2 separate regions of the Homo sapiens genome follow, and region 2 is linked to region 1. The links come from fine-mapping of genetic effects on gene expression. A gene starts in region 1. The other region holds a variant in brackets. All regions are shown on one strand. Distances are between the middles of the regions. Region 1 holds the start of MKNK1 (MAPK interacting serine/threonine kinase 1). Region 2 overlaps MKNK1 (MAPK interacting serine/threonine kinase 1).

Evidence for each region. PIP is the estimated chance that this variant, and not a neighbour inherited with it, causes the effect.
Region 2: its variant is fine-mapped to the expression of MKNK1 in whole blood (TOPMed, PIP above 0.99).

Annotation. Positions count from the first base shown.
Region 1 is chr1:46,596,796-46,612,815 of GRCh38, forward strand. MKNK1 (MAPK interacting serine/threonine kinase 1) reads right to left here and starts at 7,473. Exons shown (of 13, transcript NM_001135553.4): 1 at 7,390-7,473. MOB3C (MOB kinase activator 3C) reads right to left here. Exons shown (of 4, transcript NM_201403.3): 3 at 13,207-13,409; 4 at 10,924-12,889. The coding sequence ends at 12,860. RefSeq lists enhancers at 6,787-7,287, 7,055-7,104 and a silencer at 7,435-7,654.
Region 2 is chr1:46,571,212-46,587,231 of GRCh38, forward strand. It overlaps MKNK1 (MAPK interacting serine/threonine kinase 1), which reads right to left. Exons shown (of 13, transcript NM_001135553.4): 3 at 12,017-12,118; 4 at 9,319-9,416; 5 at 5,364-5,443; 6 at 3,736-3,809; 7 at 852-956. The coding sequence starts at 12,116. Among named protein-coding and RNA genes, the nearest start is that of MKNK1, 25 kb to the right of the region's middle. The variant AC/A (reference allele first, on the strand shown) is at 9,582.

The DNA of each region.
Region 1 (16,020 bases):
CCAGATCAACTGCAGCTCTGGAAAGCAACCCAGCCAATCTGTGAACCACAGTTGGCCGCAGGAGGGAATAAACTGACAGCAAATACAAAGGCAGAGAGAGAATGTGGAGGTTTTCAGATACATGTCACAGGATTCTAAGTGCCTGGTTAGCCCTAATTCCTTCTGGCACCATTTAAAATTCCTCTGGTCCCTTTTTCCTCCTCAAAAATTACTTCTGACTCTCACAGTTCTTAAAGATTCTTAGCATTCTTTACCAACTACCCAGATGGACCCTGGAGCCCTCTCCTCATTCCTGTACCTCCTGCTGGTATAGGGCTGGGGTGGGGAAGGGTGACCATGGCCAGACCAAACCTACACAGATCCATCGGCCTGCAGCTGGGTCTTAAGTAGGCTGGGCCTGGCGAGGCACCCAATTCTCTCTCAATTGTTCATGAATTTCTTGCTGTACTGGGAATTAAATTTCTTCAGTGCTTAAGAACTAGACCTTCTACAGACGTTTTAGAGCAAAAAAAAAAAAAAAAATCACCATGTATACAAACAAAAGATCCATCACATTACTTTCAAGACAGAAAACATCAGTGAGGCACAGGTAAGGCTAAGGTTTATGGCATCTCTACCCTTGGTCCAAAAAGCCAGATCTCGACCTGTTACTTCCTTGCTCTAAAACTTCTAATGGGTGTCCACTGCCTCTGGAGTAACCAAGCTTCTGTGCTGTCACTCACGGCCTCCATCAACTTGTCCCAGACCAACCCTCTATGGGAGTCTTAACCTGCAGTCTCGTCAAAAGGGACTGTATTTCCACCTGATTGCTCTAACCAATTCCCAGCTTCCTACACTTGTGCATAATTAAATTACCTGTAACATTTTATTACGCATCTTCCCCTAGACTGTTAGCCAGGGACAGGGTAGAGACTATGTCTCCTTCATCTCTGGGACCCCTACACCTAGCAGAGGCTCTGGTATGGGGCAACCACTTCATAATTGTTAATGAATGGATGGAAACAGCTGAAGTTATTCTTCCCTTAAGCTGTTTTAGCTGGACTCTTATTAGAAGACCGAGTACAGTCTGGGTCACTGCCACAAAGCAGAAAAACCGAAGAGAAAGAAAAGAGGCATGACCAATGTGATCCAAGCAATGGAAAACAGGTTTTAAGAGTGAGGTTAAAGAGACCAAGGCTGTTTAGCCGGGAGAAGAGAAGATGAGGTTTAACTGGATTCTGGCTTTAAGTACAGAAAAGGTTCTCATGAGAAAATCTTGATCTCATCCTCCCTTTAAAATCAGAAGAAACTTTTCCATATTCATGGAAAATGGAACAAGAAGAAATGGCTTAAGTTAAGGCCTGAAGGGTTTAAGCTGGACAGAAAGAAGAACCAAATTAGGCACCACTTTTCCAGAGATACTGTTATTGTACTTTTGGCAAGTGAATTGGAGGAGTCTTGCTTGGCACTCTTGTTGAAGGCTGTGAAAAAAGTAATATATGTGCTGCTCTGTTCCTGTTTACTGTGGAGAGAGGTGAAAACACAAGTCAGGTAAGATTTTCTAACGAGCCACTGATTTTTATTGACCCATTTCCTACAGGCACTTTCTGCCATGTTATGCATTGCAACCATGTGCTGGAACAATCTAGTATCTCAAAGGTTCCTGACAGGGCAATGGAAAGAAAGAGAAGGTAACAATGCGGGGGAAGGGAAAATGGCCCTAATAAATATACTTTCTATAAAAACAGTACCAAACTGGGCATTCATATATTTATTAATATTATTACTATTAAAGCTCACATTCATTGAGCACCTACTGTGTGCCAGGCACTGTGCTGTTGTATCTCAATTCTCATAACAACCCCATGAGGTAAGTAATATTTGTATTCTCATTTTACAGATGAAGGAACAGAAACTCAGGAAGATTAAATAACTTGCCCAAGTCACACAGGTAGCAAGTGACAGAGCCAGGACTCAAACCCAGATAGCCTGACTCTAGAGTCCACATACCTAACTACTGTCTCTCTGTAAGGATGAGAGGCTGGAATATAAACTCTAGTCTCTCTGAATCCTGTTTATATTCTCAGTTCTTCCTCATACAGTCCCAAGCCAGGACATTAGCAAGAGTTGAGGCCTCAGAAGTGAACCAAAATACTCCTCTGATTATCAGCATCTATAAAATGGGGGCAATTACACCCACATCACAGAGTTGTCATGAGAATTAAGTGAGCTAATGTATATGGAGCTCATGGCATCAGTGCCTGGCATACAGTAGGCACCCAATAACTAGTAACTGTTATTCCCGCTTCTGATATGGCTTCCCCAGATCAGCTGTGGCTCTGGAAAGCAACCCAACGACTCTGTGAACCATAACTGGCTGCAGGAGGGAATAATCTGACAGCAAATACAAAGGAAAGAAACAGACTGAGGACTCTCAGATGATAATGAGCAGGTGCAGGACTTGAATGCCAGCCTCTGCACTCCAAGTTAGTGCTCTGTCCTACTTACAGACTCTTGTTGAATTTGAGGGTGAGAAAATGAAGAGACAGGATGTGCCAAACAGGCTGCCTCCCCCGACAGACCCTTTTGTAACGTCAATCTCCCATCAGAACCCATGCCTGAAATACCAGGGTCCTGCAGCTTCTGTAAACTGGTTCTAAGATTCTACTAGCTAAGGATGGCAATGCACTGATTTATGGCACTGTGGGTGCTGCCAAAATGATCACCTATTAAACCTATCAAGCAGACCTAGTCCATGCAGCTTCCAAACTAGGCCAGTGATTCACCGTTTAAGCCTCTTCACTGATGTCCCCATTCTGGGACCATCTTTGCTCCAGTCTAACCTCCGTCCTGCTGCCAGAGAAAACCGAGCGCCAGTCAGGGCATTTGGAGCCTCTAGCATAAGGAAGATAACATGGGCCTTTGAACTCAGCACTGCTAGTTTTGAACCAAGCTGTGCCCTTACTATCTATCTAACCTTGGGGAAGTCACTTTAATCTTTCTGAGGTCTGGTTTCCTCATCTTTAGATTGGAGATAAATAGGCCTATATTACAGGATTAAATATAGTATGTAAAGCAACCAGCATACTGCAAGCCACAAAGCAAAGGAGACACTTTATAAATGCTAGTGTTCTGCTCCCTACTCCACTCTCTACATTTTAGCCAAAATCTGCCAATTCGGCTTACTTCTTCTCCTCACCAACTCCTCTCCCCTCCCACAACACACACACACACACCCCTACACCTGAGCATTTCTGCCTCTCAACTGTTGCTCAAGCTGTTCCTTCTCCCAGGAATAAACTCCCTCCAAGGCCCAGCATAAATTCTCCACCTTCAGGAATCCTCTGGTCATGCTGGGATTGATTTCTCCTTCTTCCAAACTCCCACTTTGTTTACATTCCTTACTACATTTACCATAGTCAGTCTGATTTCAGTTATTTATGTACTTATCTATCTTCCCAACTACACTGGAGGGAGAAGGTTCTGAGAAGACAATTATTTATAGGAGGGCAGGAAATGTGTTGTTTTCCTCTGTGTATATTTCTCAATACCAGGGTCTTGTACATAGCAAGAGCTCAATATGTGCTTACCGAATTGAATCTTTCCATCCTATACTGGGAATCTTTACAGAAAGATCCCAGACTGAGTTCATTCTAAAACTGCATTTACTGCCTAACTTGATAAATAGGCAATTTTTGAAGTACATGAATATTCCTAAACTAAGATCCGCTAATACTCATGTGGGCTTGTTTCATTCCTTCATCCATTCTTCCAATACACTCTGGACTCTTCTTGGGATCTCTCTCCAGCATATAAGGAGACATTGCTGGGACAACACTTCTCACTCACGGAGATCTGGGAGCAAGCTCTTTGGAGAACTGTTCCACCCCACTGGGTAGGAGGTGACTGCCATTAAAACCACACTAAAACCCAGAGTTGTGGAATTGGAAAATAGATCTGAATGATCTGCCTTAGTTTCCAAGCTATAACACAGAGTTAAAAACACTTTTAAAAACAGTGTCTGGAACACAGCAAGTGTGCAATAAATGTTCGATGTTGTATTAACAACGTAGTAGACTGAAAAAACAGAGTCATGACATTTCACTTCTAGAACTATCTCCACTACTGACTGATTCCTTGTGTAATCTTTTTTTTTTTTTGAGACAGAGTCTCACTCTGTCGCCCAGGCTGGAGTGCAATGGCACAATTTCAGCTCACTGCAACCTCTGCCTTCTGGGTTCAAGCGATTCTCCTGCCTCAGCCTCCCAAATAGTTGGGATTACAGGCACCCACCACCATGCACAGCTAATTTTTGTATTTTTAGTAGAGATGGGGTTTCACCATGTTGGTCAGGCTGGTCTCGAACTTCTGACCTCAGGTGATCCACCTGCCTCGGCCTCCCAAAGTGCTGGGATTACAGGCGTGAGCCACACACCGGCCTCCTTGTGTAATCTCAATCAAGTCCTTTCCCCATCTATAAAATGAAAGTGGCGGAACCAGATGGTTGGTTTCCAAGCTCCTTCTACCTTCAACCATGTAAATTTTTCTCTGATCAAGAAATAACTTTCTCTTCCACATGCTGAGGCTGTTGGCAAGGGAAAATGTGCATTTATAGCTGCTGGTCCCCAGATGGGAGGAACCACTGTTTCCCAAGGCCAAGGGCAGAGTAAACTGATTAGAAAACCACCTGTGAGCTTTCCCCTGTTTGAACTGTACTATTAATACACCCAGTGCAGGTCTCTGAACACAGCATTACCTACCTTCCAACAAAACTCACGGTCAAGGCAAGACAAGAGCCTGAAAACAATGGCTGCAATGAAGAATGCCTGCTTGTGCAGAATTCTTGTACTTTCTTGTTTTTGATGCCTGTAATTAGGGCATCAGTCTAAACTGGGGCCCTCCTTAGGCACAAAGAGGAGGAAAAACACAAAGTCCCATTCTGAACCTGACAGCTCATAAAACAAGGGCCAAACCTAGTAAATAAAAAATGTCACTGACTCACTTAACCACAAACACTGAAGAGGCCTACTATGTGCTGGCCCTATGCTGGACAGAGGAGGAAGGAAAGAGACATGGTCCCTTGCCACCCACGTACTCAGAGTACATATGGAGTGTACATATCCCTAGGCAGACTATGATGAGAGCTATATTAGAGGGTCAGCCTTTGCTACAGAAGATGGAAAGGGGAACAACTAATCCAGCAGAAGGCTCAGAAAAGCTTCACCATGGAGGCCACATGAGATGTAAGAGATGTAAGCCTTGAAAGATGAGGAGGAGGAGGGAAATCCAGGAAGAGAGAATATAAGCAAAGGCTCGAGCAGGAACATGCAGGGAGTGTTTGAGAAACAGAGATTTGGCCGGGCACGTTGGCTCACATCTGTAGTACCAGCACTTTGGGAGGCCCAGGCAGGCGGATCACCTGAGGTCAGAAGTTTGAATCCAGCCTGGCCAACATGGCGAAACCCCGTCTCTACTAAAAATACAAAAATTAGCCGGGTGTGGTGGCTCATGCCTGTAATTCCAGCTACTCAGGAGGCTGAGGCAGGAGAATCACTTGAACCTGGGAAGTGGAGGTTGCAGTGAGCCGAGATTGTGCCACTGCACTCCAGCCTGGGTGACAAAGTGAGACTCCATCTCAAAAAAAAAGGAGAAACAGAGACAACTAGTTTATTTTGACTGAAGCACAGGTTGCAGGTTTGGGAAAACCAAGGGAAACAGGGAGGGGAGAGGTGTGGGAACAAATTGTGCAGGAACTTGTCTGAGGCTGGAGTCCAAACTCTACATCCAGCTTGTCCAACCCGCGGCCCTGGATGGCTCTGAATGTGGTCCAACACAAATTCATAAACGTTCTTAAAACACTGAGATTTTTTTGCAATTTTTTTAAAGCTCATCAGCTATTGTTAATGTTAGTGTATTTTATGTGTGGCCCAAGATGGTTCTTCTTCTTCCAATGTGGCCCAGGGAAGCCAAAAGATTGGACACCACTGCTCTATATAGTAGGCAATGATGCCCACCAAGGTTTCCGAGTAGTGTCTCAGGAAGAGCACAAGGGCACCCATGAAGAGGATGCAAAAGGAACTAAGTAATTCAATTACTCTGGGACCACATTACAGGAGACCACATGCACTTTCTAAGCACGTGCTGGGCTCTGACAGCTCCTGTTCACAGAGCTTCCCTCTCCCATGGCTTCGCTTCATGCAATCTGAGTTGCCATCCCCCACAACTGTCAACATCTGCAAAATACCAGAGTAACAGGACTCCTAACCAACTCTCTGGATTACAGAGAGAGAAGTGTTGAGGTGGGAGCAGATGGGCAGAGGGGGCACCAAAGCCTCTAGCTGGCTCAGTTCCATATAAAACCCAACCCTGGATTTCCTCTTCACATCACTTCCAGCCCAGCCCTCTAATGAAGGGCTGAAGCTAAGGAGAGTGGGCTGAAAGCACCTGGCTGATGGGTGGTGATCCAGTGAGACATTACACCTACTGTCCAGCATGTGCCTGGCGCATGGGCAGTGGTGCCCTTCCCATTCTGCAGGGTCAGTTCCATCTGTAAATCCCACTGAGGCTTCAAGGCCCAGGTCACAACAACTCTTCTCTCAGAGCCTTTCTAAAGTACCCCAATCCAAAATGACCAAGCTCCTAGAAATCACAGCTACCATGTATTCAGCACCCATTACATGACAGGCGCCATACTAGGTGACTTCCATATAATCCTATTCACCCTTCACAATGACCCTATTATGGCCATTTCCTAGGGAAGAAAGTGAAGCTCTGGGAGGGGAAGCAGACTTGCCCCAGGACACACAGCTAAGAGGTGGAAGAGATGAGATCTAAACCCAGGACTCCCTGACCCTGAAGTTGAGCACTTCTAACAACACTTCATTCCTGTGAGCCTGCCTGCCTCTGATCTGCCACTGTCAGGGAGCTTGGAGCTCTCTAGAAGACAGGGTGCACCTGACACTCTTATTACCTTTCCCTGTGGACAGCCATCCACACAGGCAGGAGCCTTTAAATACTGAAAATAAATGAAAACAATTAACTTAAAAATAACGCAGTACACAGATTTCACAAATTCCTCACGTGAAAAACTATTCATGATACTGGACTGCCTGAGCCCTGCGCCCAGCCATAGCCTCGGTCCTGATCCCTGGGAGAGACTGAGTCTCAAACGGGCCACAGAGTAAGCGCCATCTCGGACACCGGCCACGCCCCGACCCCAGGCACAGAGGTCGCAGACAGCTCGGGACAGTCCTGAAAAGCGTCCCCTTAGGCTGTCCCTCCGCAGCTGAATCGCGTCGTGACCTCGGGCAGCCGTGAAGGCCCTGACTGCCCCCTTCCGGGCACACGAGCTCACTCACAGACCCCGGCCCCATTTAGCTCGGAGGAATACCTCGCAGGTCTCGCTTTTACCTTCGCTGGCTCCCGCCGGGGAGCGGTCGCGCGCACCCCTACCTGCAGATCGCTCCTCCGAGAACGCGGAAGAGGCGGTGCTAGATCCAGGGGGTGGGCCCGATCAGAGAGGAGGGTGAGGGGGCGGAGCTGCGCCTGCGCCCTGATGGCTACCCAGGGCCGCCTGAGGGCAGGGGGCTCGAGCTGAGCGAACTGCGCAGGCGTGACAGGGAAGAGGCGGGGAGAGGGGAGATTGCTGGCAAGCGGGTGGGGCTTAGCTCCTCCGGCGCTTTCTTTTCCGAATGGAGGGTGGAGAAGCCCGGGAAGGTAGGAGGCCGGGCGCGACAGGTGTAATTAACATGTACTGAGAGCTTCTGCAGGCCAGGAAGGAATTTTAAAATGCCTTTTATATGTGGGGAAATGCTGCTAGTCTTTTCTAAAACGGGGGCCAATTCTGTACAATTTCTTTAAAAGTCTGAGTGCCTAGAATTTCACCATAAGAGTTTCTCCTTGAGTACAACATTATCCCCAGTATTTCAAAATTTTTAAAACTTTTAAAAGTTCATTTCTTGGGGAAAAACAACTGTAAATAGGTTAATGCCTCAACCAGTCTCCCCACATCCCCTTCCCAAGTCTGCAGCTGCGATGAGAAAGGATGAGAGTGTGGACTGGGATTTAATTCAGGCGCTGACTCCGAGTGATGGAGGTGAACATCCCTTCCCTGCCTGTCTCAGGATTATCGTGAGGATTTGGTAAGCCAAGCTAGTTAAAGAGCCCCAGGGACTTGCTTCCCATCATCCACCTGACAAACATTTGTTCCCTGTCTTGTCGGGGCTGTCTTTTCATCTGTATGATGGAAGGAGATTGGGAATATTAGTGAACATTCAGGACTTTGCTAGATTTCCCAATCTGGGTGAAGGCCGGAGAGGCGGAAGATCAAGCTTCTGTGTTCATTCCCTTCTGGAATCCTGCGGTCCAACCTGAGGGCCCCGATGTATCCTGACTTCTCCCACTCATTACCTTCCGTGGAGGCCGATCCAAGCTTCAAGTCTTCAGAGGCCCTGCTGGCCTGTTCCCTTCCCTGTTGCCTGTGGCAATAGCCCAAGAGATTCAGGACCTATGTTCCAGGTTCTCAAAGTTGCTATGTCCCTCACATGGCAATCAAATTCAGTTAACATCTTTGAGGGCTCTGGGGGTGCTCAGAGGAAGGAGGGCTCCCCCAAAGCAGGTGGAGCTCTAGTCATGACTGTGGCTTATTTCACCACATATTCCACAGCTTGCTGTGGGGTAGGGAGGAGAGGCAACAGGAAACCTCAGAGGCTGCAGTGTTTATGGGAGCCGAGGGTGATGCGGCATCCTTTACTCAATAGGTGGATGCTCTGCCCCAGGCTGGAGAGGATGGCTTACTACCTAGGTCCCTGCTCCAAATATTGTTTTGGAATTTTTTTTCTTTTTTTTTTTCTGAGACAAGGTCTCACTGTGTTCCCCAGGCTGGAGTGCAGTGGCACCAGCTTTGCTCACTGCAACCTCTGCTTGGGCTCAAGTGATCCTCCTGCTTCAGCCTCCTGAGTAGCTGGGATTACAGGCATGCACTACCATGACTGGCTAATTTTTGAATTTTTTTAGAGGCAGGGTTTTGCCATGTTGCCCAGGCTGGTCTCGAACTCCTGAGCTCAATGATCCTCCCACCTTGGCCTCCCAAAGTGCTGGGATTACAGGGAAGAGCCACTATGCCCAGCTTTGTTATGGACCTTGAGCCAACAGGAAAATAAAGCCCAGCCTGACTTCTCAACCAAGCTGCCACTCTACCTCCCAGGACCCTTTGTTACTAGGTTTTGCCCCATGGGAGTGTGCTCTTTTATCTGCATCATTGAGGCCCTATCTCTTTCTTTTCCCCTTCTCTTCCTTTCTGTCTATTCTTCTTTAAGCATCCCTCTGTGAATCTCTCAAAGCAATTTTGTGTCAGCTTCCTAATGTATTTACAGATATTCTCATGTAAGGTGCAGGTCTTGGGTCACACAGTTCTAAGATAAATCTACTCTCACTGCCATGGTCATATTTCAAAATGACCATGAACCCAAAGCATGGGACTTGTAACAGTCTGAGCTGTCCAATGACAGAGGAGGTAGTGAGCGATCTGTTATAGGAGGTGTGCAAATAGCACCCTTTTAGAATGCTGGGATTGGGCCTCCTGTGGTGAGCCAGAGGAAGAGGCAGCAGAATGGAGGGCCTTCCAGATTCTAGAGGAGTGACTAAAGGCAGGGATATTGGGGGCTGGAAGGGAAGCAAGGCAGCTGGCCAAAGACACACTTGATTCAACAAGCTATTATATGTCAAGCACTTAGAAGTGTACCTGACACATAATGAACATTAGCTGTTATGATGACTGTGAATGATTCATAGACTATATAATGAAGGAGCTGAGATCAATCAGTCCTTCACTCCCATCACTGATAACAAAATAGATGAAGGGTTGGGGTCTAGAGGGGGAATGGGCTTGCAATGGAACTTCAGGAGCTGGGCTGGGGCTACAACCTATGCCTTTGCCTCCCAGGAGAGCCTCTGCACAAAGCCAGGCTGGCTCCTTTGCAGGAAGAGGGAAGAGCTCTAGATGGGCCTTTGTTGACTCTTAAGAACCAAGCTGCTTTTTAATTCCTGCCCAGGCAGCTTGTGAGTTGGGGCAGTGGAATGACAGCAAGACCTGAGCCAATAGATGCAGATGTCTACTGGGGAGTAAGCTCAGGAGTCAGGCCCATGTCCTGCCACCCCCACCGTAGCTCCAGCCAGCAACAAGTATCTTCCTCTTCAGGATGGCCTCCTGTCCTGTAATTAGTGTTGGGATTGTATTTCCACTCTGTCCTTTTATCTACTACCTCAAAAAAAAACCACCCAGAGTAAGGGGCTGGAGTGAGAATAGCCAATGCCAGGCCAGGCGTGGTGGCTCATGCCTGTAATCCCAGCACTTTGGGAGGCCGAGGCGGGTAGATCACGAGGTCAGGAGATCGAGACCATCCTGGCTAACGCGGTGAAACCCCGTTTCTACTAAAAATACAAAAAAATTAGCTGGGCGTGGTGGTGGGTGCCTGTAGTCCCAGCTACTCCGGAGGCTGAGGCAGGAGAATGGCATGAACCCAGGAGGCGGAGCTTGCAGTGAGCCAAGATCGCGCCACTGCACTCCAACCTGGGTGACAGAGCAAGACTCCATCTCAAAAAAAAAAAAAAAAAGAAAAAGAAAAAAAAGAATAGCCAATGCCAGGCAACCTGAGATGAAACAAGGAACGATTCCTATCAGACTGAGTTCCCGGAAGGCAAAGAAAAGCCAGGCTTCTCCACCCCAAGCGTCCTAGCCTAGCTCGGTCTAGAATTTCCAGAGCCCCAGGAGAATCTTTGTGTCCCCACCCTAGAGAGCTGGGCCAGACATGACCACACCAGCCAGCCCTCCACATGGTCCAGTATCTCAGGACAAAAAGCCTTCCCAGCCCCATTCTGGCTCAGTTCCTTCCATGGTCTGCCAAGAGCCATGTGGCACCCAGATCACCGCTTCCCACCAGTGGCTGCTTTAGTTTGCCTTTTATTTTACCAAAAATAACAACAATAAAGTCTTCCCTCTGTTTCATAAAAATAAATTTTCCAACCCTCCCCCTATCCCAGAAATCAGCCCTTGCCACAGCCTAGAATCCATCATGCAAGTCACAGCACTCTGGGAAAAGCTCCTACTACCCTCGCTCCACAGCCTCTGGCAAAGCTGCCAGGCCACTCTGGAGGCGGCAGAGGCAGAAGTCCCAGGCCCAGCTGGCTGGGCCCAAGAGCTCCATCTGTTTCCCCAAAGTACAGGCAGCTTCTAGGCCATTGAGTGGGGCATGATATTGGATGCTTGGCTCAGGAAACAACCCCAGCCAACCCAAGGGGCAGTGGGACATGTTGGCCTCAGGTTAGAAATTATTGCTCAAAGCAGAAACAGTTGTGTCCTAGAGAGGGTCTGTTAAACCCTCTTTCCATGTGTATCTCTATGTAGCAATTGATGGGCCCTGCGGTCAGGATCCCTGGTTTCTCCAGCTCCATGAATGCCTCCCTGTGAGGCCCTGGACAGTTTCTCCCTCTTCTTCTCCTGGCTTCAGTTTCCCCGTATGTACATTGAGACAGTAAGACTGGATGATTCTCAGGTTCCCTCTGGCTTTCCATTCTGGCATCCCAGAGTGGAGGCTCTGGGAGGGCAGAACCCTGTTCCTGCCTCAGTTTCCCCACCTGTGGGTCTGCGTATAGGGCTGGGTATGGAGGTACTGAGTAATGGAGTGCTGCGTGAACATCCCAGTCTCCCTGTGGATAGCTGTGCTGTGAGATCCAACTGGCTGGAATGTGTCAGGGATGGCTGGGAAGGAGGCAGGTACTTTTAGGATGGAGGATCTCCATGCCTGGAAGAGTCCATTCACCAACTACATCCTCAATGTGCTGGGATGGGAGACAAGACTCCAAAGTTCCCAATTCAAGTTCCACAAGCTCCTTGGACGGGGAGATTATTTTGTGCTGGGCTTCAGATCCGAGGAGCCAGGTCTGTAGATTCTGGGAGCTAGAGTGGAGTATATGATTCCCAGATGAAGGGCCAGGGGACCTTTGTGTACTTGAGGGATCATCTCCAACCCCCAGGAGGACACGTATAATACAGGCCTTCTTGGAGGCAGAGGGATGAGTAAAATGTCAGCTCATGGGCATCTCTGGGTAAGAGAATCAGAGCCTGTGTCTGCAGTGGGTCGGTTTAGGAACTCAAGGCAAGGCTCCTCTTCCTACGTTCCCCCAGCTCTCCAGGACTCATGCTGATGGAAGAGTGTAGCCTGGAAGGTTTGAATGTAGAGCAACATCTACAACCACATTTTTGTGCACTTACACACATGGTCAGATACACTGAGTGGGGACGCTGAGCTGTCATCACTCCTACAGTGGTCATGGTCTGATGGTCCCATGGTCTGATGGTCCCAATCTATTTATCCATCCATCCAACATTTATGGAAGGCCTACTATGTGCCAAGGAGGGGTAAGGCAGCTAGCTCTCACAGACACACCCCACAGTGAAAATCACACACACACACACACACCCCGGCATCTGTGCTCACTCACAGGCAGACTGCTCACTTTCTTGCACCTTTCTTGCCATCACCTCGGCCACACCCACATTCCTCCAATAGGCTTGGGAACCAGCATGGAAGGGTCAAGTGTCATAGAAGAAACCCCCTAGCCTACCCTACTCCCAGACTTCATGCCAGAGGTTTAACTCCACTTCCCTTCTGTTTGCCTGCCTAGATGCTCTCCCCTTCTCCATCCACAAGCGGTCAGGGCGACAGGTAGGCAGACTCCTGAGAACCAGAAGTCCAGAGGCTTTGGGTGTGTGGAGTGATTCCAGTGCCTTCAGATTCCTTCAGGCTCCTGGGGGTCCCCTCTGCCAGCCACCCTATGTTCAGATCGTCCATCTGATGGCCAAAAAAGTCCAGACCTGGGCTCAGTGGCAGATCCGCTCTGTCATCTCCCTCTGTAGAGACACAAGGTAGGGAGGGGTCAATTAGAGCTCAGCCTACTAGGCAATCCCTTCCCAAACCATAGGGCCTAGCTGCTCTTCTGTCTGAGCCTGGCCTTCCCCCAGCAACCCCAACTCTTAGGCTGCAGATCTGGGTTTGTAAACCAACACTTGAATGAATTCTCTATTGAAGTACAGAATTCACTGTTAAATGAATTGCCTTCCCCTAATTCATCTACTTGGGCGTTGGAGTTACTTAAAGCAGGCAGCTTTTGGACGTGAAAACTCAGAGGCTAGCCTTGGTAGGGGAGGGTGGTAGGGCTTGGCCTCACCAGTGGCTCCAGCTCCCGCTGGTCCACCAGACTGAACTCGCGGATGAAGTAGTAGAAGTGCTTGTAGCAGGTGTTGACGTGCGCCTCTGCCCCCATGCTGAGGATGCTATCGAAGTGGTGGATGTAGACATGGACAAAGACTCGGAAGAGGCGGGTCAGGATCTTGGTGCAGACCTGCTGGAAGTTCTTAGGGAAGGGAACTCCTAGAGGGCAGGGGAGGGCAGAAGGGGATCAGTATCCTGGTGCCAAAGCTCTGCTCAACTTTTCCCTCCCACACACAGGCAACCAGGATGGCTTTTTCCCCAGCACACTTTTTAGTACACTTCCCTTTGGAAAACAGAGAGTGGTTTGACTTTCTCCCATACTTTTCTTTCTTTCTTCCTTTCTTTTTTTCTTTCCTTTTTGAGACGGAGTTTCACTCTTGCCCAGGCAAGTGCAATGGCATGATCTCGGCTCACTGCAACCTCCACCTCCCAGGTTCAAGGTATTCTCCTGCCTCAGCCTCCCAAGTAGCTGGGATTACAGACATGTGCCATCATGCCCAGCTAATTTTGTATTTTTAGTAGAGACAGGGTTTCTCCATGTTGGTCAGGCTGGTCTTGAACTCCTGACCTCAGGTGATCCACCTGCCTCGTCCTCCTAAATGCTGGGATTACAGGCATGAGCCACTGTGCCTGGCCATACTTTTCTTTCTAATGAAGCACAAATCTGACTGTGGCTCTCCCCTGCTGGAATATACATCATCTTCCACATTTTCCCATTACCTAAAGCAGGGCTTTGCAAACTTGTGGGGGTCACTGACCAACCCTTTTTAGACTATGATAAAAGTTACGACCTAAACTCTCCCCAGAAATATGTGCAATTGCAGAGATGCTCACATCACACTCTTGTATACAACTCCAAGGAGAGTTCAACAACTGGGTCCATTTAAAAAATCCCTGGGCCTTCAGGATTAAGTCCTAACTTTCCAGCAGGACGCTGCTCAAGGCCTTTCATGATCTTATCCTGACCTCCCTCTCTAGCCCCACCCCATGTCCCTCCTCTTTTCAACATTCACACAGAAGTCCTCAGACCCCCAATCCTGGAAATTATGAATTCTGCAAGAGTTAGTTCAGACAGCCCTCATTCCTTCAAATATTCAACAACACGAAGAACCTTCCATTTATGAGCAAGGCCTTGTGCTGGGCCCTTCACACCTTTTGCCTCTAATCCTTAGAACAATTCGCCTGATGTGTCTGATTGTCACTTTAGATATGATAAAACAGAAGTGCTTATAAAGGTGAAGCTGCTAGCCCAAGGCCACATAAGTATTAATCAGTGCAGAATGGAGACTGGATTCAGACCCTCTTTGCAGTGCACTGCAGCGACCCTCACAGATATTGGGACCCATGAAAAAGGCCCCGCTTCTGCATAGTCCCCCATGCTCAAGGCAGAGATCTTGGTGGCTTATGCCCTCTTCTCTGTGTGGCAGTCACCCAGGGTTTTAGGCATCGATACCTGGAGTCCCACAGGCCCAGGGAGGTATGGCCAGCAGGGACTATGAATCTACATTCAGGTCCACAGCTGGCCCACCCGGCTCTGTAGACCCCCTCCTCTTCCTCACCATTCCCAGGTGGGGTCGAGCCTTCCCTCCCTCTGAGCCCCTCCAGCCCAGCCCAGATTCCTCAGACATATCCTGCCCATGTAGACTTGGGGTCCTGGGCTCCCACAGATCTGAGCCCCAGTTCGGAATTCCTCCCAGTTCAGTGCACTTTCCCTCAGTAGCCTCAAGTTTCCTCCTATGTAAAATGAAGGTGCTCCTTGTCGGGCATGACAGTGCAAGAAACAGCAGGCCACTGGCTGGGGAGGAGCCGTGGGCATTGAATTGTGACTCAGTGCCCAGCTTCCTTCAGCATTCAGACTTCTCCCCTCAGGGCTTGACCACCCTGCCCCACCCACCGCTGATCCACACAGCCTCTGCAGAGATGAGCTCCAGGCCAGGTGGGGGCTGGGCCCAGCTACAGGTGCGGCTGGTGTGATGAACACAGTGTCATGCCTGCTCAGCTCCTGGACCAACAACCCCCTCCTGCTGCCCTCGGGTGGGTAAGCAGTGCCTGGGTGACATCACTCATCTCCCCTCCCTACCCTCACCCGCCCAGGCTGCCCAGCTGAGATAAGAAAAGGCCCCACAGCCTGTGCCTGGCAAGGGAAAATTCTGTCCTCAGAGCCCCAATCTGAGGTGATGATACCACCAGGGCCCACCCAACCACCAACTCCCTCCTTTTCCTGAGGCCAGGAGTCAGAGGGAACCCCGGGAGGCTGGAGGTCAAATCAGCTATGAACACCTCGGGGCAACTGTTCTGGAAGGTTCTGAGAATCACAGCATCTGTGGTCTTGCCAGAGTGGTCCTTGGTGGGACCACTTATGCTTTAGAAAAGAAAAGCCCTCTGAGGTGGGTGGATCACCTGAGGTCAGGTGTTCGAGATCAGCCTGGCCAATGTGGTGAAACCCTGTCTCTACTAAAAATACAAAAATTAGCCAGGCGTGGTGGTGGGTGCCTATAATCCCAGCTACTCAGAAGGCTGAGGCAGGAGAATCGCTTGAACCCGGGGGGCAGAGGTTGCAGTAAGCTGAGATCTCACCACTGGGTGAAAGACCGAAACTCTGTCTCAGAAAAGAAAAAAAAAAAAAAAGAAAGAAAGAAAGAAAAAGAAAAGAAAGAAAAGCCCCAAATTGGGAGTCAGGAAGTCCTAGCAAATGCTTGACCTTGAGCAAGGCACTTAACCTGTTTCAACCTCGCTTTCCTCTTCCACAAAATGGGGATGAAAATCAACC
Region 2 (16,020 bases), 26 kb before region 1:
ATGTGCTTTTCAACAGATACCTCAAATGTACATGTTAATAGAAAAGTATAAGCTGGGCACAGTGACTCACACCTGTAATCCCAGCACTTTGGGAGGTTGAGGCAGGAGGATCGCTTGAGCCCAGGAGTTTGAGACCAGCCTGGGCAACAGAGGGAGACCCCATCTCTACAAAAAAATACAAAAATTTCCAGGTGGTGGCACACACCTGTAGTCCCAGCTACTTGGGAGGCTGAGGTGGGAGGATCACTGGAGCCCAGGGAGGTTGGGGCTGCAGTGAGCCCTGATGGCGCCATAGCACTCCAGCCTAGGTGACAGAGAGAGACTTTGTCTAAAAAGGAAAAAAAAGGAAAAAGAAAAATAGATTTTTCATTTACTGTGAACAAGATATATTAAACTACATATATCCTATCATGCCAATTTTGAAAAGAGACAGAGGTGATGTATATTTTAAGACTAGAAGGAATAACATCAAGATATTCACACTAAGAAGGTTGTATTGTGTATGAGCTTTATATTCCTCACACGATAAGAATCTAAGAAAAGAAACATCATCCACACACAGTCACACATACCCTGTTCAATGTGAAATTTATTCTTTCTCCTCCCTGCTCTTTCTCCTGTATCCCTGTGCTGCTCAACAGCTTCACCACCCACCCACCATCCGCAGCATAAGCCTAGGAGCCATCCTGGACTGTTTCTCCCTCAACTCCCATGGGTGAGCATGTTCACACCTCAAGCTGCCTTCCAGCCACACCATCTCCTGCACCAGCCCTCTGCCTGGCCTACCACCTCCCTTGGTACCCAGAGGCTGGCCAGCCCAACCCACCCACCAAGGCAAAGGCTGGGTTCACCTTTGGTATGCAGGAAGTCAAGGGCAGCAGCAACGTCCCGCACCACTCGGCTGGCTTCTCGCTCATTGAAGTGCTTTTGCTTCTGGATGTGGGCTAAGATGGAACCTGGGGAGCAGAGGGGACATAGAAGAATGCCTTTTTGGGCTCTAGTAAGTATAAGTTTTTTTTTTAGACGAAGTCTCACTCTGTTACCCAGGCTGGAGAGTAGTGGCACGATCTCGGCTCACTGCAACCTCCGCCTCCGGGTTCAAGCGATTCTCCTGTCTCAGCCTCCTGAGTAGCTGGGATTACAGGCAGGCACCACCATGTCCAGCTAATTTTTGTACTTTTTTTTTTTAGTAGAGATGGGGTTTCACCATGTTGGTCAGGCTGGTCTCGAACTCCCGACCAAGTGATCCGCCTGCCTCAGCCTCCCAAACTGTTGGGATTACAGGCGTGAGCCACTGCGCCTGGCCGTATAACTTCTTAGAGGCCAAGTTTTCCCAAGTTTGGAAAACTTGGGGTGGGGACATAGGGATTCATCGCTGACTCATCACTACCTGTCCAGCTCCAAGTGTGGGGCCTGGTACGGAGGAGGTACCAGCTTGTATGTCTGTTAAACAAAACTGGACTACTCTCTTCTGTACCTGTCTATGAGGAGCTCAGAAGCGAGAGAGAACAACTATAAATAGGGCCAAAAAACACTAATGATGCTGAGGCTGATTTGGCTTCTGCAATCAAAAGGAATAAAACTGAAGGCACTTGGAGCTGAGGGGGCCTTTCTGCAGCAACGTTTTCTCCCCTGCATCTGATCTCTGATCCAAACAAGAGCACAAACTTTCAAATGGAAATGCCACACCCTTGCCAGACATGTAAAGGCCTGGGAAAAGGGGGGAAAAATGGGTTTTCCGCCTGAGCTTTCCCATTCATTATTGTTTTGTTGGCAATGGCTAACATTTACTGAGTAGTTACTAGTGCCATGTGCTATGGAATACTCTTGAAATAAACTGTCTTATTCTCACCACAATTGGACAAAATGGGTAGTACACTTATTCTCGTTTTACAGAGGGAGATCCTGAAGCCAAAAAGAAAAATGGTTGAGCAACTTGCCCAAGATTACGCACCAGTAAGGGGTGAGGCCAGGACTTAGGCCCAGGGCGTCAGTCAGGCCTCCGAGTCTGTGCAGACATCCCCCAGCAGGACTTGTGGTCTGACTGCTGCAGGGATGGACTCTCTTGAGCCAACCACACTGGGTCTGGCCTCAATAAGCTACATTAAGTTTACTGATATGGCGACAGAGGATCCCATCTGCATGTAGCATTTCAAACATGTAATTAACAGTCAGTCATGTGTTATTGGGTGGTGCAGGGGCAGACACAGGCAGGAACATGTGGCTTGGCTTCATGTGGTTTATGTTTACTACTAGAAGCCAGCATTTCTGGGCTGAAGGTATTATCTCTCTGTCCTAAAAATGGCACATGTCTACTGTTTTTTAGGGGGGATGGGGAGGGCATGAGAGAAGGGGAAGAACTGCCAAAGATTGTTCGCTTGCCAGATTAAACAACGGATCCCAATGTGCTAGGGAACATTCCCAGAAAACCGGCTCATGACTAGGTCCTAGCTTGCTCTGCTGTAGTGAGCCTCGTTTCCAAATCTGTTAAAAGGAAAAGCAGAGAATAATGCTTTACATACTTTTTTTTTTTTTTTTTTGAGACAGAGTCTCACTCTGTTGCCCAGGCTGGAGTGTAGTGGTGCGATCTCGGCTCACTGCAACCTCTGCCTCCCAGGTTCAAGCGATTCTTCTGCCTCAGCCTCCTGAGTAGCTGGGATTACAGGCATGTGCCAGCACACCCAGCTAATTTTTGTATTTTTAGTAGAGCCGGGTTTCACCATGTTGGCCAGGCTGGTCTTGAACTCCTGACCTCAAGTGATCTGCCCACCTTGGCATCCCAAAGTGCTGGGATTATAGGCGTGAGCCACTGTACCTGGTCTACTCTACATACTTCTAAGACATCCCCCAGCATACCAAATTGTTTTAATAATATTAGCAGCCAACATTTATTGGGCCCTTAGTGCCTACCAGACACTGTCCTAAGCATTTCACATGAATTATCTCATTTAATCTTCACAGCAACCCAGTGAGGTAGGTGCTATCAATATCTCTATTTTATAGAAGGGAATATTGTTTAGAAAAGGTTAAGTGACTTGCCCAAGATCACATGGCTAGTAAGTGATGCAGCTAGACATAACATAAGCTTTAGCTGTGTTGGTTTCTAAAGCACGCTCCCTCAACCACCAAGCCCCTCCGTGTGGCCCTCCATGCAGTTCCAGACATCCCTGCAAGTGTGTCCTAAGATTGGGGGAGTGATGGGAAGGGAAAGGGTTTCTCTACCCCACCTCATTATGTCAGAAAAGCAACTTAAGTATACACCCCAGTGATTATGTGTGTGGGTGATGGCATCTTTCCATCTGAAGGATGGCACATTCTCAGGCTTCCCCTTTATCCTGGGTCTGTGTCCCAAACAATAGGACCCTCCTCTCCTCTGTTTTAGCCTTTCTAGACTTCGCAATGTATTTGAGAGCTTCCACCCCATAATTAATGTAGTTAAACAGTGAACATGTCAAAACGGGATTGATAAATCGATGACTAAATGTATCTATATATGACTCCTATTATAATGAAAAGGCATTTATAAAATACCCACACAGGTGACATTCTAAGCTCTGCAAAATGCTAATTATCATCCTTCCCTCCGGCCTCCCTTCTCCCAAATCAAGGGCAGTTTTTAAGTCCTTCATCCTTTTTATTAGCTTGACTCGTTTTGGAAGTCTCTGGGATTCATGATGGATGATCACCACCCTGGGTCTTAATCAGAAGTCCACACACATACTCAACGGTAAGTACCTCCTTGCAATTTCTCAAAGACCAAGTAAAACCTTGTGTCATCTTCAAAGAACTCAATCAGCTCCAAAATGTTCCTTAAATAGGGAAAATAGGAGGAGAGGGAAAAGGGGGGAAATGGTATTATATATTAAAGTCTACTTACAAATATACAATGAAAAAAATATACAACACCTGGTAGTGGGGCAGAAACCAACTTGAAATCAGAATGCTTATTAAAGACCCGCGTATGGAAGCAGCCAATGGTGTTAGCAAGATTCAGGTCACCTTATCTTTCCATAATGTTTAGTCTCTGGTGTTTTCACCAAGTCTGTGCTGTCAAACCCCAGCCCTAAAACCCACTAGGTAGAGTTATAAAAAAGTCCCGGTCACATTAAACTGAATAAAATCTGCAGCCGACTGGAAGCAATTGCGGCTAATAACACTGAATACTAGGTGTGTGTCCTGGAGGCAAGCAGCAAATAATTACTTGCCCTCCCTCTTGCCCATAAATCACGGGGCAGTATTTACATTGCCTGGAGAAAATGGAAACATCTGTCAAATGGACTTGGGGCCTAACATGGGCACCGCTAGACCCTAACTGCTAAGCGCTGCTTAATGAAACGGCCGCGTTCCTGGCCACTGTAGCACTTGTGGCCTTCCCCGGTGAGCACTCTCTGTCTGCCCGAGTATTTCAGTGCTCTGCCAACAAGGTCGTCTTGTAACTCAGTAGGGAAGCCACCAGCCTGGATATTGGAGGTGTTGTGGGCTTTTTTTCTTTTACAAAATAAAATAAACCAAGTAGAGTCTCTAATGCTGAACTAAGAAGCTGCAGGGCTGAAAATAAAAATCTGTCCCTCATAAAAAAAATGCTGACTACTTTGGGAGATATGAGGCTTTTACTAGTGTGAAGGCATCCAAATAAGATGGGCAAAATGGCCTAATTTGAAAGAAGATTGTGGAGGCAGTGCCTGGAGTTAAATCAACAGCAGCCCCCGTCCTCCAATCCTCCAAGCTTAATGACAAAGCCATCAATACCAGGCCACTGGCTCCCTGCTGACCCTACCGTGGAGGGAGAGAGGGGGAAGTGGAGTCTTAGAGGTGCCCCTGATTTAAAGCCACAGTGGGAGAGCTGCTCATTTGGAGCTGGTGGTGGGCAGAATGAACTGGGGCTAGAGATGAGCCGGACCCAGCTATCTGGAAGGTTCCAGGATCTTAGTGGTATCTGCACATATGTAAACATTCTAGGAGCAGAAACAGCAGCAAATATTCTTAACAGTTCTCCTCATCTTGGTATTAAGGCAAGTCCTTAAAGATTTCTACCAGGCAACACTCAGTCAACCTAGTTTCCACAGGTACCGAAAGAAATAAAACCCCATTTCCCCCCAACAACCACTGATTCAGATAGTTCATTCTTCTAACTTGCTTGAATTGATGATATTTACAGTATTTCAGAAGAGATAATAGCTCCTTTGCTGTTACTGCTGCTTTTCCTTTCTCTCCCTAACACTGAAAGGGGCGGAAGGAGGTACCTGCCTTGTGGGGACAGGAGTGAGAGCTAAATGCTGGAGTCAGGAGATGGTAAGAAATAGCCTCCTCTTCTGTGGCCAAGCGTCCCCCCAGAGAAGCAGCGAGAATCACATGATACTCACTTGTTTCCCTGACACTGATACAGCGTCTCCACCTCTCGAAACACCCTACTCCGACTGTGCCCTGCTTGTTTCTCGATGATCTGTGGGAAGAATAAAATCTGTCATGTACACCCACCTGACTTCCAAACAGCCCTTTGGCAGGAGTCCTCTGGGAGAATGCAAGGCCACACTCAGTCCAAATCCAGTGTCCAGCAGAAGTCTGGCCTAGGCCTTGGTGACACCGGCACTGTGGCTCTGTTGGCAAAGCAGCAGACTGGCCTCAGGGCTTTCCAGCTCAGCTGAGCCCATTCCACTCTGGCCAAGCACAACACCAAGGAAGTGAATGAGGCTGCTGCCCCCAGCTGCCCAGGGGAGACTGAGGCAGCCGGCAAGACAAAGAGCTACCTTACTCAGCTCCACCTCCTGTGGACACCTCTTTCTGCCTTAAGGGTAAGCATTTACTGCATCTACTGAAGGATCTTCTCATGCTGGAGGGAGAGGCTGATGCAGGACACCGTGGCGAGGAGCTAAAGCTTTGACACCCAGCTCAGAGGCTGCCTCCACGATCCCCCTGGCAGAAGTAGGCTCTTCCTCTTCTGAGAACTTACTCTCTGGCAGATACTGTGTTAAATGATTTATTTACGGCCGGGTGTGGTGACTCACACCTGTAATCCCAGCACTTCTGGAGGCTGAGGTGGGTGGATCACCTGAGGTCAGGAGTTCTAGACCAGCCTGGCCAACACGGTGAAACCCCGTCTCTACTGAAAATACAAAAAAATTAGCCAGGCGTGGTAGTGGGTGCTTGTAATCCCAGCTACTCAGGAGGCTGAGGCAGGATAGTCACTTGAACTGGGGAGGCGGAGGTTGCAGTGAGCCGAGATTGTGCCATTGCACTCCAGCCTAAGTAACAGAGAGACTCCATCTCAAAAAATAAATAAATAAATAAATAAATAAACAATAATAATTTATTTACATAATCTCAGTTGACCTTTATGACAACATCAAAAGATAGGGAGGTATGAAACATTTGCCTGCAGTCCAGAGCTGACTCCTAAGCCCTTGCTATCCCATACCTGCTTAGATGCTCTAACTTCTTCGAGGACCTGGAGGCTTTGTCTCTCCTGTGATACGGTGGGCTGCTCCCCCTCCACACTTTTACCTGAGATGCTTGTCAAATGCTGACTGAAGGAACAGATAAGCCAACAGATGGGAGGGTGGTTTCCAAAGGGACTGGCTGCCTCTGCAAAGCTCTCTGGACCCATCTGGAGCCTCAAACCACTGCACACCGAGCCTGTGAGCAAATCTGCAGAGCCTAGCTCTGCCTTACAGCTCCAACGTGCACAGTGGGCAGCACAATGACATCCTCTTCCTTCATTGAGACTTCAAACTTCTCCGATATGATGTGGCACAGACATCTGTGACCAACTGCAATTTTCTAAATAAGTGTGTCTGTTTGTAAACCACAGTGGGCCCATTATCTGAATGGAGAGGTGTAGTGCTGGGGAACAGAAGTGATTCAACTTCATTCCCCAAGCATTTCAGATCAAAGTCATGAAGAACTTTCTAGCAGGCAAGCCTTCCACAGCACAGTCTTCTCTGAGGAAGTAATGGGCTCTTGCTACTAGAGATGGGGGAGCAGAACATGGACAACTATCTGGGGAGTCAGAGGAAATTCAGGGTTATCTTGAAATTCCATCCCAACCTTGAGAGTCTAGGATCAGCTGGGTGCCTATAGGAAAAGCTGTAATAAGCTAAGTATTGTGGGGCCATGTTGGGAGAAGTAGCCCATCTCTAGGGAGCTTTGAAAGAGTAGGGGAGAGAAGAAACATGGGCAGAACTGCTGAAACCAAGGAATTGCCAAGCCAGAGTCCAGTGTTTGCCTCAAAGATGCCAGGGGGGATGTGGAGGAAGGGCCAGGTTTTCCTCCCATTATCCAACCTTGAAGAAATATACCTCTCATCCATAAATGTATTGAAACCTTTGAAAATCAGTTTATGTTTGTGGTTTTTACCGCATTTAGACAGATATATCAATTTTTTTTTTTTTTTTTTGAGACAGAGTCTCCCTCTGTTGTCCAGGGTGGAGTGCAGTGGCACCATCCTGGCTCATTGCAACCTTTGCCTCCTGGGCTCAAGTGATCCTCCCACTTCAGCCTCCCAGGTAGCTGGAATTAGACGCACATGCCACCACACCAGGCTAACATTTTTTTTTTCTTTTTGTGACAGAGTCTTGCTCTGTCGCCCAGGCTGGAGTGCAGTGGTGTGATCTCGGCTCACTGTGCAACCTCTACCTCCCGGGTTCATGGGATTCTCCTGCCTCAGCCTCCCAGGTAGCTGGGATTACAGGAATGCACCACACCCGGCTAATATTTTTGTATTTTTAGTAGAGATGGGTTTCACCATGTTGGCCAGGCTGGTCTTGAATTCCTGACCTCAGGTGATCAGCCCGCCTCAGCCTCCCAAAGTGCTGGGATTACAGGTGTGAGCCACATGCCTGGCCTAATTTTTCTATTTACACTTAGGCGTATGTTTTAAAAATCACTTGTAATTTATACTGAGCTGTTTCCCAAAAGAAATTAAGACAGTGCTCTTGTTACCATGTGAAGCAATACTCCAGCTGAAAGGAACGTGGCTTAGCAGACTTGCTCAACCTTCTAACCCGCAGCTGGGACTGTGGAAAGTTGGTTCAAAGAAGAGAAAACATTTCCTTCAGGAGCCCACTGGGCTGGGATTGCCAATGTGAGGTGGCATTTGACCTGGTGGCTCAGGTGGGTGATTTGAAATCAGCTTGGATTTAAAAAGACCCTTTCTCTAGGTCAGTTAGTCCTCAAACTTTGGTGGCTATGAGACTCAAGTGGGGAATCTGGTCAAGCCACAGAGATCCAGACCCTATCCTACATCTGGAAACCTGGATCTGTGTGTGCTTTGTTAGAGCTCTAAGGGCTTCTAACACATAGTAGCATTCACAACTGCCCTTCCTACAACAGTAGTCCTCAAGGATTAGTGAGTGTCAGAGTCACCAGGAGAGTTTGTTAACATTTGTATTGCTGGGCCCACCCCTGTTTCTGAGTTGGTACTTCTCAGGTAGGGCCAGGTAGCTTCTATTTCTAACAAGTTCCCAAGCGATGCTGAGGCTGGTCCAGGGCACACATTTTGAGAACCACTGCTCAAGATCCAGCTCTTCTTCCATGTGGAGAGGGCAAGTGGAGGCACAGAGGGGTGACATGAGCCACTCCAAGGCCTTACAGCTAATTAAAGGCAGCAATGAGGCCAGAAGCCACTTCTCCTGCCCCAAAACTGAGTGCTCAGTCGCTTTAGTTTTGTTTTCTTCTTTTAATTTTTTTTTTCTGAGACATCATTCAGATGTTACCAAATCAGTCACCTTAGTTTTTAATCCTCACTATCATGCTAACATCTAACACTTGGATAGCATTTTGTGACGTGTAAAGTGTTTCCACCTCTCCCAGGATATTTTAATTTTCATCTTCATAACTGCCTCAGGAGACTGAAGGGCAGGTATCATCATTTAGAGATGTAGGAACTGAGGCTTACGGACATTTGATGACTTGCCCAAAGTCAAACAGTTATAGTTTGTCAAAATAGATATTCAGGTAGGCCTTCTAATTCCAAATCTGGTTGTCCACTCCCTGAAGCTGACTTCATTTGTCAGAATAATGAGAAACTTACTATGAGCCAGGCATTGTGCTAAGCACTTTACCTATATTAACTTATTTAATCCTCACAACAATTCTACATAGGTTCTAGTATTATACCCATTTTACAGATGAGAAAACTGAAGGACAGAGAAGTTAAGTAACTTGCCCGAGGTACACAGTAAGTAGAGAAACCAAGATTTGAATCCAGTGAATACAGCTTCAGAGTCCCCATTCTTATGGAATATAACATTTATTTGGTTCAAGATGAGCTAGGAATGACTATTTGCAAAGTAAAGCCTGGCATTCAGCTGAGACACTCACTTTGACGGCATACTCTTTGCCATTCTGTAGGCTCACGGCACCTTGAACTTTGGCATAGGCTCCCTCTCCAAGCAATTCAGAGGTCAGCTTGTACATATCTAGAGGTGAAATGGATGAGAGGAATAACAAGATGAGTCACCCTACTGCAAGCTCAGATGGGAAGAACTTTTGTGGCTCAGCTTCCCTGATCAGACGACACAGGCACCCAATGACTCTAGCACTCAGTGACAAGGAAGACAAGTAGCTTTCCCAGCCACCTGAGG[AC/A]CCAGTTTCTCAACAACAAGACCACATACAAGGCATCCTGTTCCTCATTTTAGCGATGAGGTTAGCAAAAGGGTCTCAATTCGGCACATACTTCCTGAATATCTACTATGTGCCAGACAGCATAACAGAGTAAGGAATAAAATAAAGGCCAGGTGCAGGGGCTTACACCTGTAATCCTAGCACTTTGGGAGGCCAAGCCAGGAGGATTGCTTGAGGCCAGGAGTTCAGAACCAATCTGGCCAACATAGCAAGACCCCATCTCTAAAATATATATACGCATGATCCCTCTCCTCTAAGGGTCGCAGTCCAGTGGGGAAGACAGACACATACACAGGTGACCCCAGAATAAACCAGGCATTGGTAAATACTATCACAGAGGGACAAAGTACAGTTAAAAAAAAAAGTTGGGGGAAGAAAGGGTTAAATCTGTTCAGAGAGGCTGGGCATGGTGGCTCACACCTGTAGTCCCGGCACTTTGGGAGGCCGAGGTGGGCAGATCAAGAGGTGAAGAAATCGAGACCATCCTGGCCAATGTGGGAAACCCCGTCTCTACTAAAAATACAAAAATTAGCTGGGTGTGGTGGCACGCGCCTAAAGTCCCAGCTATTTCGGGGGCTGAGGCAGGAGAATCGCTTGAACCCGAGAGGCGGAGGTTGTAGTGAGCCAAGATCGTGCCACTGCACTCCAGCCTGGTGACAGAGTGAGACCCCATATCAAAAAAAAAAAAAAAAAAAAAAAAAAAAAATTGGTCAGAGAATCTGGAGGATCATCAGAGGAGAAGTGGTATGATTTGAATGAATATTCATTTACTCATTTACTGAGCACCTATTATGTGCCAAGTTCTGTGTAAGCACTGGCTATACAAAGGAGAATAAAACACTGTTCTATTTTATACCCCATACATGGAAGTCATTGGAGGCTTCTGAGAAGTCTCCAGAAGTCACCCACAGGAAATAGAAGTAGGATGCAAAGGACACCTTGAGGTTTTTAGGGTACTGAGTCATAGTTGTTCTAACAGAGTAATAGACCTGGGTTAAAGGAACATCTAGATGACCTGCCCAAGCTCACAAAGAGCACAGCTCTTTGAGCCCCTTCCAAAGGAGGCTACATCTCCATCACAGCACTAGCTGCCTGACCTCATCCCCACTCGGCCTCCATTCTTCAGCCTTTTCCTCTTGAGGCACCTAGCATTGAAACCCACAGCCTGAGCAGAAGACATTTCAACCATGAATTAGATTTTATCACTCTCAGTCAGGAGAAGTCCTGTCATTGCACAAGCTGTCCTTAAAAATAGGAAGTACTCTCTTGTGTTAACTGAAAGAGCAAAAGAGCTGTTGATTAGGAAACTATTTGAATACCTTGGGATCTTTGTCTCTCCCCCATCCCCATACCCTGACACACACAGACACACACACACAGACACACACCCCTGCTGTTTGAGTTAAAGGCAAACAAAAAACCCCTGCTGAAAGTACCTTCTTGGTTCCATCACGGTTTGGTCTTTCAGTTGTTTATAAGAGCAGATGGCACACTGTTATTCGTAAGTGTTTTAAATGACATGCTTCTCACAATGGACACATTGGCATTAGCCCTTTACACATATCAGGATAGGTGGGTGGCTGGAGGTCCCATATTCCCAACCGATAAAGTGCTTGTTATTGGAACCACTTTACAGAACAGCCAATTCACTAGTGTGTCTGGAAGGCTGGAAGGAGGGACCAAGAGGCGAAGCTACTTCAGACCTCACAACGAAAGAAAACAAAACAGATGAAGTGGGGCACGTTACTCCTAGGAGTAGCTACTGATCCTCTTGGTGCTTTGCACAAGTGTCCAATCACCCCATCACATGCCCAGTGATAACAGGACCCACACTGAGCCTAGTGCCTCGCACACAGAGAGTGTCAAAAAATGTCTGATGACCCAACATCGTTTCTACTGAACACAACACGTATTCTTTAAAATGTAGTCAAACACACACAGCATAAGTAGCTACAATCTGAGAGACAAATTCTCTGCTTACAGGAGACTGAAGTTTCATTTGCGGCCATGGCCTTTGGTGTTTCTCTCTTCCTCTTATATAGTTCTATCTCTCAGCAGCCCCTCCAGGAATAGCTGAGGGAAGAATCACATCTGAAAAAAGGAAGACCCCAGGCAATGCCACTGATAGATGGGTCTTCCTGCTCCCTGAAAAGGAAGCAGTACCTGAGCCATTCACAGGAGGCCAGTGCATCATCTGAGAGCTTTTTCCATCCCTGCTCTCTTTCTGTAATGCCCTGTGTAAACTCCCTCATCCCCATCTTATCTCCCTACCACACAGATAACCACCATCTGGCTCTAACTTGACGCATTCTGTGATCGGACCTGTGGCTCCCGGGATGCTCCTCCCATGCTTGGGAAGCTGCAGGCCCAGATATAGGGAAGTTGTGTGACCAACCTTCAAACTTTCCTGGCAAGGAGTCAGTGGCCCGGCCCCTCCGCTTCTTCTTCCTCCTCCTGTCACCATCTGCGATGGGAAGGGGTTCGCTACTGCCCATCTCTAGGAGATAAGAGGAGATGTAAGGGAAACATCACTGTACTGATCAAGCTGTAAATTTACCCAGAAGGAAAAAAAAAAGGTAGTGGGGGAGGACCCAGGAGGTTTACACTGATGGTTTTTAAATATCTGTGAAGACTATTGATTTGTTTTGACCTAGGAGGAAAAACTAAAGGCAAAGCCATTATGGGAGATCATTAACTGTGGAAAGGAGCTCAGACAGGCAGGCTAGATTAAAAGAGGCCAGCGGAAGCCTGCTTTAACCAAGCTCATTAGCGCGTGGATTTAGATCTGCCACTGGTCAAACCATATTCCCCAAACAGAACAATGACTCCATAGGCAGAACCCCACCTGTGACATCCTCCAGCCTCAGCATCAGAAAGGCAAAACCGAGAGAGCTAGGCAAGAAGGGGGTTGGGAGTGGGGGACCATGCAGATGAGTCATAGGCTCAGCAACATCGCTATGGATGCACACAGGGCACAAATGGCCTGGAGTGGAGACAGCCTCTGTGAAGGTAGCAATAGGGCTGGGGTTCAAAATAGCCCCAAATTACTTCATGTCCAAGAGCACGGACTTGAGTGCCTATGGAGCCTACGGCATCCTCTCCTCCCATAGCTCCTCCATCGGAAGGGCTGCAGGTAGTGCCCATTCAGAAGTCGGCAGTTGACAGGTCTGTGCCAGGCTGCTGGATGAGGTCACTTATTGCAAAAAACCTTATTATCTTTCATTGGCAAGCACCTGGCTCCCAATCTTAAAAGGAGGATTTGTGAGGCAGGCATTCAGACACTGCACAGATTGGGCAGAAAAAGTCCGGATGGAAAGAATAAGCAGGACACTGAGATAGGAAAGAGAAAAGGAGGAACAGTGAACCAGTGCCCAATCACAGTCCTGTTTCTAAGACACTCTAGTATGGGCCTTTCCCTGTTAAAGATAAATTACTTATAGAACATGTCATGCCCCTGATCCAGAGTGGAGCTTTAATACTCTTTGCCTGCAGTTAGAAATAATAAGATTTCTCCGAAGTCTCTGGGTCTAAATCCCCACCAGCGTGATTAAACCTTTACATCCTTCTAAAATAGAGGCACTCGAGTGCTGATGGGGCATACGATGTGAGAGACTTTTAGACCAACCTTCAATAAACACAGGCTCTTGGTTGTTGGTGTTTTTTTTTTTTTTTCTTTCTTTTTTTTCTGAGAGCTTTTAAAATGGAAGCTGGTTCTTTGCCCATTGAGGGGAAAGGCCCACTCTCTTCTCAGAGGATCTGGCGGCATACGACCAGAGAAAGAGCAAGTCTGCTAGGAAGACTGATTAGTGCTCATGCAGGTCCATACACTGTTCTCAGACGCAAGTACGTGACAGCCATCCGGAGAGAGCACACAGGATGGCACTTTCAACACCACAATCCAGAAAGCATGGTTACGCAGCCAAGTGCCTGACAGCTCAATTTAGGCGCATTCTTCCATCCATTTTGGGGATCTGATGACAGCACATTTTAAATTATAGTTTAGAATGGGGAACAGATAAACACACAGATAAAAGAAATCCACAGAGCATCTCAAAATATAACTCTAGCCAAGAGCTTCAAACACAAGATATATCTGGGGACTGCAACACCCTATGAATTGAAAGAATTAAACATCTGGCTAGGCACCATGGCTCACGCCTGTAATCCCAGCGCTTTGGGATGCCGAGGTAGGCAGATCACTTGAGGTCAGAAGTTCGAGACCATCGTGGCCAACATGGTGAAACCTGTCTCTACTAAAAATACAAAAATTAGCTGGGTGTGGTGGCGGGTGCCTGTAGTGCCAGCTACTCGGGAGGCTGAGGCAGGAGAATCGCTTGAACCTGGGAGGCAGAGGTTGCAGTGAGCCGAGATCACGCCATTGCACTCCAGCCTGGGTGACAGAGCAAGATTCCGTCTCAAAAAAAAAAAAAAAAAAAAAAAAAAAAAAAAAAAAAAAAAAAAAAAAAAAAAATCAGCACCTCAACACCCACCCTCACCAAGGTAAATTAAAAGGAAAAAAGCTGCCCAAATGTATAACATGGTGAGAAATTCAGCAGAAATAAAACACAGGGTCACTCATCTTCAGGAGCTCAGGGAGGGGGTGCTGGCCATCGGGGCAGCAGGCTGAGAAGGAGGAACCATTGTCTCTCTCTCTTGCGCTGACCTTGAATGCAGTCCAGTGGCAACCCGTGTCTGCATCTATTTTCTCATCGGCACCGCAGGCCCAGTGCAGAGGAAACAGATTTGGGTTTCAGCTCTTTCTCCTTCCCCTGTCCACACTTTGATGGAGGGCCCCAGGACAAGCAAAACAGCCAAAAGACAGGCAGAGCAGAGGAGCAGCAAGAGGGCTGGAGGCATTATAATTCACAGGGGACACTCAGGCACACGACTCTAATGAGAAAACCCTGTTAGCGACAATTTATACTTGGTCTTTACCACAGCAGGGCTGAGGGAGCCGCTTGCACGAGAAGCATACCTCACAGCACCACCGCACACGTAACATTAGATTTTATGGCTTCACACACACACAAAGACAGAGTACCTGGTATATTCTGCATGGATTTCAATGAAAGAGGGTACGCCAGAAGGGACAAATGGTTAAGACTTTCCTTGGAAATGGAACTTGGAGAGTTGTTTCTGAAACTAGGAAGGAAAAAATGTAGGAAGATGGGTGAAGTGAAAGAAACATGCTTAGCTTCCCTGGTTACACAGGGGGAAGCGAGAGGTGTCATAATCTCACCAAGGGGTCGCTAGTTGCCCATGTGGAGCCTGGCCACACACTATTTTCATCACAGAGTCCACTAGCAGGTCTGTGGGGCCTTAATTCATCATGCAAACACTCATGGGATAAATGCTGCCTCAGGGAGTGGGACCCCCGCAGTAAAGCTGCACCTTGGCTCACCTGCTTCCCTTGGCCTAGGAATTCTTCTTGGTCATCAAAAGCCGGCTCGATAGTCCCAACCCTTTTGCAGCTCCCTGATAACTCCAGATGAGTTAAGGTTTCTACAGAGACTCTGGAAGTCAGTTAGGTGCTATGCAAATGGAGGGTGTTACTGAGCAGAACTAGTAGTTGGTGCTCCATCCTCTGCTCCCAAACACCCTGCGAGAAGCTCCACGAGGGCACTGATTTTATTTGGCCTTGAGTGCTCCCCTGTGTTCCTAAAGGCTGAGATTGTCCCCTGTTCACTTGTTTCTCCTACAGATCATGGCACAGTGTCAGACACATAGCAGCCATCAGAAATTGCACTGAAATAGAAATGATATGAAATGACATGCATACTGTTAGGTGTGGGGTATGTCACACTGGCCTTTTAGGTACCCAGTGCACATCCTGAAAGAAACATGGGTACAACTTTGCCCTGTAGACAATGCAGAGTAAGGCTACTTAGTTTTATGAATCCAGTTCAGGAATTCTACTAATTCCTGGATAAACTCCCTTTCGAAAAAGGGTCTAGGACACAAAACGTCCTTCACTTTCTTATCTTTTCTTTTCTTTTTGAGATGGAGTCTTGCTCTGTCACCCAAGCTGGAATGCAGTGGAGTGCAGCTCAGTACAACCTCTGCCTCCCGGGTTCAAGCGATTCTCCTGCCTCAGCCTCCAGAGTAGCTGGGACTACAGGCACATGCCACCATGTCCGGCTAATTTTTTGTACTTTTTAGTAGAGACGGGGTTTCGCCATGTTGGCCAGGCTGGTCTCAAACTCCTGACCTCAGGTGATCCGCCTGCCTTGGCCTCCCAAAGTGCTGGGATTACAGACGTGAACCACTGCGCCCAGCCAGGTCCTTCACTTTCTAAACAGAAGCCTGGTTCTTGCTATAGGATTGGGCAATGTGTCTGTTATTACAGAGGAAGAAGTGAGCACTTCTTTTCAGTTTCAGGCAGATCCCAGCTGGTCTGGA